Linked DNA regions of Homo sapiens. The protein of the gene in region 1 interacts with the protein of each later gene in a pairwise test. Each region holds a gene or a part of one and is shown in the gene's direction. Other genes may lie near its edges.

Region 1 (3,655 bases):
TTGCTCTAAAATGAAACTATAAATGTTGCTTTGGAATCTGCCCTACTAAGATTTAGAAGCATAAGAGGTGCTAGAACTGGCTCCCTTATGAAAGATAAGACCTGAATTATAAGCATATTTGAGCATATTGAAAGTAGCTAAGTAATGAATAAAAGTCAAGATGGACTCTTTCATTGGATAATTGGGTAATTTGCTTTCTCAATAGAAGGTGACACAGAATTGCTTGTAGAATAAAAAAAAATTCTTTCTGGAAGGAACTTTCTGGAAGTAGTTCAACCATCGTGTTTTATACTTGGTTGGCATGGCAGCTTGGGAACTCAAACCCTATTATTCTCAACTCTCAAGTGAGAGTTCCTTTTCCTACTGGATGCTGCCCCATGAATTTCTATGGCTTATGTGGTTATTAGGCCTTTATTTAGTCCTTGCAGCATCATAGTTATATGTATATGGATAAACAAGAAGCTGATTGCCCTTCTCTACTGAGGACATTAATTGGTGTTCATTTTCCCACAATAACATGGCTAAATAAGTATTAACATGTTACATTAAGAAATATGTCCTGCCAGGCACAGTGGCTCATGCCTGTAATCCCAGCACTTGGGGAGGCTGAGGCTGGAGAATCACTTGAGGCCAGGAGTTCAAGAGCAGCCTGGGCAAAATAGCTACACCCCATCTTTGCAAAACATTTTTTAAAATTAGGTGGGCATTGTGGCACATGTCTCTAGTCCCTGCTACTCAGAAGGCTGAGGTGGGAGGATTGCTTGAGCCCAGGAGGTAGAGGCTGCAGTGAACTATGATGGTGCCACTGTAGTCCAGCCTGGACGACATAGCAAGACCCTGTCTCTATAACAATAAAAAAGAAAAAAAGAATATGTTCATATTCACATATATCTTTAAATGATGGTCAGTTGTCTCAATATTCTCAGGGTTCTGCATTTTTACAGATCCTCACAACACTCAGGCCTTTGGTCTCTGTACTTACAACATATTGCTTTATTAATAAAGTGTTTTGCTGTTCATAGACTAAATGCCACCAAAGTCATATACTTTGTATGGGGTTTTGGTGATAGGCCAGGGCACCACATGTGCTGACTAGTGCTCTTTTTATAGTAAAACAGACTTATGAAAGCAAAAATTTATTGTGAAACTGTTTGGGGCATGCCAAATATCATAGGCAGTTAGCTCTTTGCTAACTGTAGAAACCCAGAGAATAGAATTGAGTGTTTTCTTAGGGAAGGGGCAATGAACACTTTGTGCCTGGGAGATCGAATGCTGCCAAGAAAGGGTTTCATTGCCCAGGACATAGTGGGGGAAGAAATGGAGACTAAATTCAACCTCTCCAAGATGGCCACAGGCAGGGGTGTTTTTTCTTCCAAAAGTATAAGAAAGCAAGAGAACCCAGTTTTGTTTTTAATACTTTTCTTGTTTGTTTTCTAGGTAGAAAAGTGTGGATTCACTAGAAATTAGAACTTGATTCCATTTTCTAAGATCCATTGTCTACATTATCTGCAGCTGAGAGCTTCTACTCAGGGGGCAAGGTGTCTAGCAGTTTCGATTTCAGAAAAGTGTTATTTCTGTAGTCTAAATGCAAATAATATGACATTTCCTTCTGAAGCAAATATATACGCACACACACACACACACACACACACACACATAAACACATCTCTGTTTCCTTTCTTGGTTTTTGTTTGGTTGTTTTTTTTTAACCAGAGATTGCCTTCATTTGATGGTCTAGAAGTGACTTTCTTTTATATGTGCTATTTTGAGCAGAAGGAGAACTGAGAAAAAGAAGGAAGGCCATCTGAATTTAGATAGGTGTAAAGTCAAAGAGGAAGAAGTTAGTGTTTAAGGCTAAAATAAATTGTCCTGTAAGTTATCCCACTGACCTTGGAATTGACAGGGTCACTTTTGGTTTCCACAGAGCCCCTTATCAATCACATTCATTTGGAGTTGGGAGGTACAATTTGCCTTCTTGTATGTTCTGAGATGTAAGAGCAATTTTCTTGTTTGATTAAGTGATTTATTCATCATTAAGGCTAATTTCCCAAATAGTCATTTTTATTTTGTAAAAATAAAGTTTGGAAGAGAAAGGGAATGAGATGAGATTTGTAGATGAGATTTTTATTATTTTGTCATTGTTTTATTTTATTATTTTTGTTATTAATGTTACTCAATATGTGGTTGCTTATAATTTATTTCACCAAGAAATTTAGAAATGGGAGATATTCCTTAAAACAGATTTCAATTTTTTTTAGCGCAACTTCTAGAATCCCAAACATACTTTCCTAGGTGATAAATACATGGCTGAAAAGCCAAGTTCATATTGAAAGTGTAGGTACAACTTAATGACAGCAATGTTAATCGTCCTTTTCGGTGTGCATGCATTTTTTAAGTCTCCTACATGTGAGGTATAATGCCTGGCAGCCACAAATAAACCTTGACCAAAGAGAGGATATTATTGATCACAATTTTTAAGTGGCTTATTCAAGATAGTGCTACATTTACGTTCACTTTTATCAAGTGGAAGCATCTCGGAGCTACCATCTATTTTATGTTTATATTTGTAGACAATGGGTGCCAAGTTCATTATTCTACAAAGCTATGAGCATGCCTTTGTGAATTAATATTAACAGATAAAGTAGAGATCCGAGGCACTTACATGAGTAAATAAGAAGAAAACCCCACACCATCCACAATATCCTGATATTGAGGGGGGAAAGAGTATTTTATAGACCGAAATTGACCAAATAATCAATGAACTCAATCAAATTAATTCAATCATGGCCCAAAACTTCATTGCCTCCTTGCCACCCTGAGCTGACATCATCCACCTGCAGCTGACCAACATGTGTACTGTATGCTTCCATACCTCCTGCTCAGTGGGCATCAGGCAGGTAGATGTGCTCTGCTCAACAGTATCCCATGAACAGTAATTGAGTAGGAGATGGTGGGGAGAGCAGGGATTCATGACTGAAGGTCAATTTATTTTCAGATATTCTTTTTAGATTGAGCAACACAGACTTCTTTTGGAAAATCTGATGGTAGATGAGTCAGCTTATTCTGATTGCATTTCAGGTGGAAGCCACAAATCCTACCACATAATTCTGCCCAATGTGCGCCTCATATTCACATTCTCAATTGGATGTAAACCTGAGCTTGTGAAGGTTACAATAGTTAAATGTATTAAGTCCTTATTATGTGCTGGGTATTGTTCTGTTTCCCATCTATTACTGTATTTAATCCTCATAGTAACACAAATAATGTACTCTTCTTATCCCCATCTTATAACGAGGTTGCTGGAGCTCAGCTGGGTTATGTAATCTACCTAGGGTCACACAGTCAGTGTGGAGTAAGGATTCTCACCTGGCTTCGGTTCCCATCACCTAAGGGTGTGGTCTAGCCTTTTAATAAGGTTCAGCTCTTGAGTTAAAACCTAAGCTCTGCAGAAAGCCCCTGGGAAATGTGAGGGCCAAATTAAAGGTAAGCTACAAACTTTCAGGTGAACCACATTAAATAATATTCTTAATGTCATTTAGACATAATGGAAGAGTTTGCCAGTTTTGTTGTTGAAAGTGCACAGGGCTGTGGGTTTGTATCCTCTGGTCTTCTCAACATGGTTTTAATACATATCTCTTTTAGAATGAAGTGTCTA
Region 2 (3,655 bases), on another chromosome or scaffold:
TGTGTCGCAGGAAGAAGAGACATAGGATGGTAAATTGGTCAGCAGGATCAAGTGACAGGTTTTCAAGATAAGGGAGCACTGTACATGACTGAAGGCAGGGGAGAAAGTGCCAGTGGAGAGGGTACTATTCAAGATGAGAAGAAATAATTATAATTGAGTCAGGGAGATCTTAGAAGACACTTTAGGAGATGAGGTTTGGGGTTCTGGTGAAGGCTTAGCTGTGGAAATTGGGAAGTTATATATTTTCCTTTGGGGCTTGGAGACTATCTGAATAGACAGTGATCAAAATCAAGAGGAAAAGAGACCTGTGCAGCGAACTGTGATATTAAATAATCTGCAGGTTTGGAATAGATTTGGGACCCAAGGATGGTTGAACAGACGTGCAGAGACTCTGTTGGGTTATCAGTAAGGATTGGTGGGCCTTTCTGTCAGGGCAGAAGTAGCCAAGACATAGGAATGGCATATGCATTTATATTTAGGAAGACTGAAACACTATGATAATATTCATTAAACCGGTAGTCTGTCTAAATTGTGCTGAATTTAAATTTACACTACAAAATGAATAAATGGAGTATACCAAATATATTTCTTAGCAAAACATTCTCTGTTGCAATGACTTCCTCCAAATTAATTTTATTTTAGACTTTTGGCAAAGATGTTGTAACATGAACTTCTATTTAAATATATTCATTTTCATTTATTTGTATAAGCTTATTTTAAAATAAAAGCGATACCATTACCCTGCTGCATGCATGTTGATGTAGGTTTGCATTTTAACTGGCTAGATACATAAAATTTTTTATGTTTATGTGTTCTAAAGCTTGTTCAACCAAAGTCTATGATTTAAATAATAGGCACAGGAAGAAATTACCCGACTTCGACGAGAAATGATGAAAAGCTGTAAGAGTCCTAAATCAACAACGGCACATGCTATTCTCCGGCGAGTGGAGACTGAAAGAGATGTAGCCTTTACTGATTTACGAAGAATGACCACAGAACGAGATAGTCTAAGGGAGAGGCTAAAGGTTGGAAAGGATTTTATTTACGTGAATATATGTGAAACACAAATTCAGGGATATTGAAATCACTTTATTTTGTTTTTGCTTTTTAATCAGATTGCTCAAGAGACAGCATTTAATGAGAAGGCTCACCTGGAACAAAGGATAGAGGAGCTGGAGTGTACAGTTCATAATGTAAAAAAAAAAAAAAAGAAAAGTCTCTTTTGGCTATAAACACTCAATGGCTTTCCCCTTTCTCCTTTTTCTGTATTCAGAGAAGTTATTTTATTTTTCTAAGATAGTGTTTATAGTCCTAAAATACTTAAGGTATTTTATAGTGTAAATTGTCACTTTTTCATTTGTTTATTTCCTTCTAAAAATGTGAGTAAATGTTTTTTGGTGTTAGGTTGCAAAGTATGTACTTTAAAAAAATCATTAGGCATTCATTTTCAGGGATCTTATCTACTTTCTCATCTCCATATTTTGTTAAAGATAATATTGCCAGATGTAAAGAAAATGGTTTATTCTACCTAAAGAGTGGATAAGGAGAGAAAATTATGATGAAATAAAAATTATAAGCAAAGTTTATTTAAACTAAATTTAAATGTGAAACATCACCTTTTTCCTAATCAGATTTGATATTGCTACGAATATATATTGATGATATTGTCACTATATAAACATAAGAGAATTTAACTTTCTATTACCAAATATAATTGAATATATTTATAAGTTCATCTGTACTGTTTTATTGTAATGAGTTAAAAATATGAGATAGGGGCTGGGCACGGTGGCTCATGCCTGTAATCCCAGCACTTTGGGAGGCCAAGGCGGGTGGATCACCTAAGGTCAGGAGTTTGAGACCAGCCTGACCAATATGGTGAAACCCTGTCTCTACTAAAAATATGAAAATTTGCCAGGTGTGGTGGCATGCGCCTGTAGTCCCAGCTACTTGGGAGGCTGAGACAGGAGAATTGCTTGCACCCGGGAGGTGGAGATTGCAGTGAGCCGAGATCGCGCCACTGCACTTCAACCTGGGCGATGGAGCGATACTCTGTCTCAAAAAAAAAAAAAATTACTAGACAGGAGAAAATAATTTTTGTTTTCATAATTCTACATTATATGTGTAATTTATTAATGTTGGGCAACAAATAAATTCTTTTGCAAACAGCATATTTATACTATAGTCAAATTGAACCAGATTGAAAAATATAGACTGATATACTGTGATAAGCTTTACTTTGCAGTGGCTTTTCCTTGGTCCTACTTCACAACACCTTATCTGTAAAACCTTCTACAGCAGTCAGGTCTAACCTGATAATCTCATCCTGTCAGTCTTGCCATAAACCAGTTTGTACAGAGGGAGTATGCCCTTCAGGAAGATTACTAAGGTGTTTTTAGTGATGGCAGTAACCTTGTCATTCTACTTGTATAGCTTGATGATGAACGTATGGAGCAAATGTCAAATATGACTTTGATGAAGGAAACCATAAGCACTGTGGAAAAAGAAATGAAATCACTAGCAAGAAAGGCAATGGATACCGAAAGTGAACTTGGCAGACAAAAAGCAGAGAATAATTCTTTGAGGTAAACTAAATCACCTTTAAACAACCAACAGTTTACTATAACTATAGCTCTGCTTTTTATAGTGTATTTTATAATGAAAATTATTTGTTGAGTTCAGTTTCTGAGAGGATTATTGAAAAGCAGTTGTAGGAACCCTTGGCACACAGTGAACAATTTTCCTGAGCTCAATCACAGGCTGGTAATGCCACACTTAACTAGGAATCACACTTCTAGTAATCTTACTTTACATTTGTAAAAAACTTCAACTTTTAACTGAAATAGCTTTTACAAAGCTCTTCTGGGTACAGAATATATTTGACTTTGATTGTTTACCTTTATAACTTTAAATTCTGTTTGGGGATATGAACAGTATAAGAAAACACAAAGCACAGGTTTGGCAGTTGCTTAGAAAAAGGGTGATTTAGAATATAATGAAAAGCCGTAACAGAGAAATAGGAGCACGTGATGGAGCATCTATTAATTGAATGCAAGTACTATACTTAGCCTTTCCTGTGTACTGGCATGGTTGCCGAAGATGTATCAATTGAAGCAGCCTACAGCAATAAGCTTGGGAGAATGAGTTTTTGAAGACCTCTACATGAGTGGTTTTACTTTTAGTATCTGTTGCTGTGAGAAACAGAGGTTCTACAGATTCAGTAAGGTTGAATTTCATTGCATCTATGAACATTGAAAAATAGTAATAGCTTAATATCTAGGTGACGGGTTGATCTGTGCGGCAAACCACCGTGGCACATGTTTACCTGTGTAACACACCTGCATGTTCTGCACATGTACCCCGGAACTTAAGAAAGAAAAATAGTAGTTCACACTCCTATTAATGCTGAGATTACAGGCATGAGCCACCGGGCCTGGTCTTTCTTAACAATTTTTTTTTTTTTTTTTTTTAGTCATAAAACCAATTATTTAATTGAAGCTATAAAAAAGGCAGTATAAGCGATAAAATAATTAGGAAAGAATATTTAGCATGTTTCAAAACATTTAAAATAGGAGCAGAACATTTTACAAAAAGTTGTACAGGAAATTAAATTCTAAAACTGTAAGTACAAACATGACATTACAGAGTATCTTAT

Evidence for each region.
Region 2: the proteins of CREB5 (region 1) and TSGA10 interact in binary tests that used the Homo sapiens proteins (3 or more experiments, as listed by UniProt).

The regions. Positions count from the first base shown.
Region 1 is NC_000007.14:28,814,429-28,818,083, forward strand, and holds part of CREB5 (cyclic AMP-responsive element-binding protein 5), read left to right. Parts: intron 1-3,642; coding exon 3,643-3,655. UniProt on the Homo sapiens protein: Binds to the cAMP response element and activates transcription.
Region 2 is NC_000002.12:99,102,897-99,106,551, reverse strand, and holds part of TSGA10 (testis-specific gene 10 protein), read left to right. Parts: intron 1-854; coding exon 855-1,025; intron 1,026-1,115; coding exon 1,116-1,193; intron 1,194-2,433; coding exon 2,434-2,585; intron 2,586-3,468; exon of another isoform or gene 3,469-3,655. UniProt on the Homo sapiens protein: Plays a role in spermatogenesis. When overexpressed, prevents nuclear localization of HIF1A.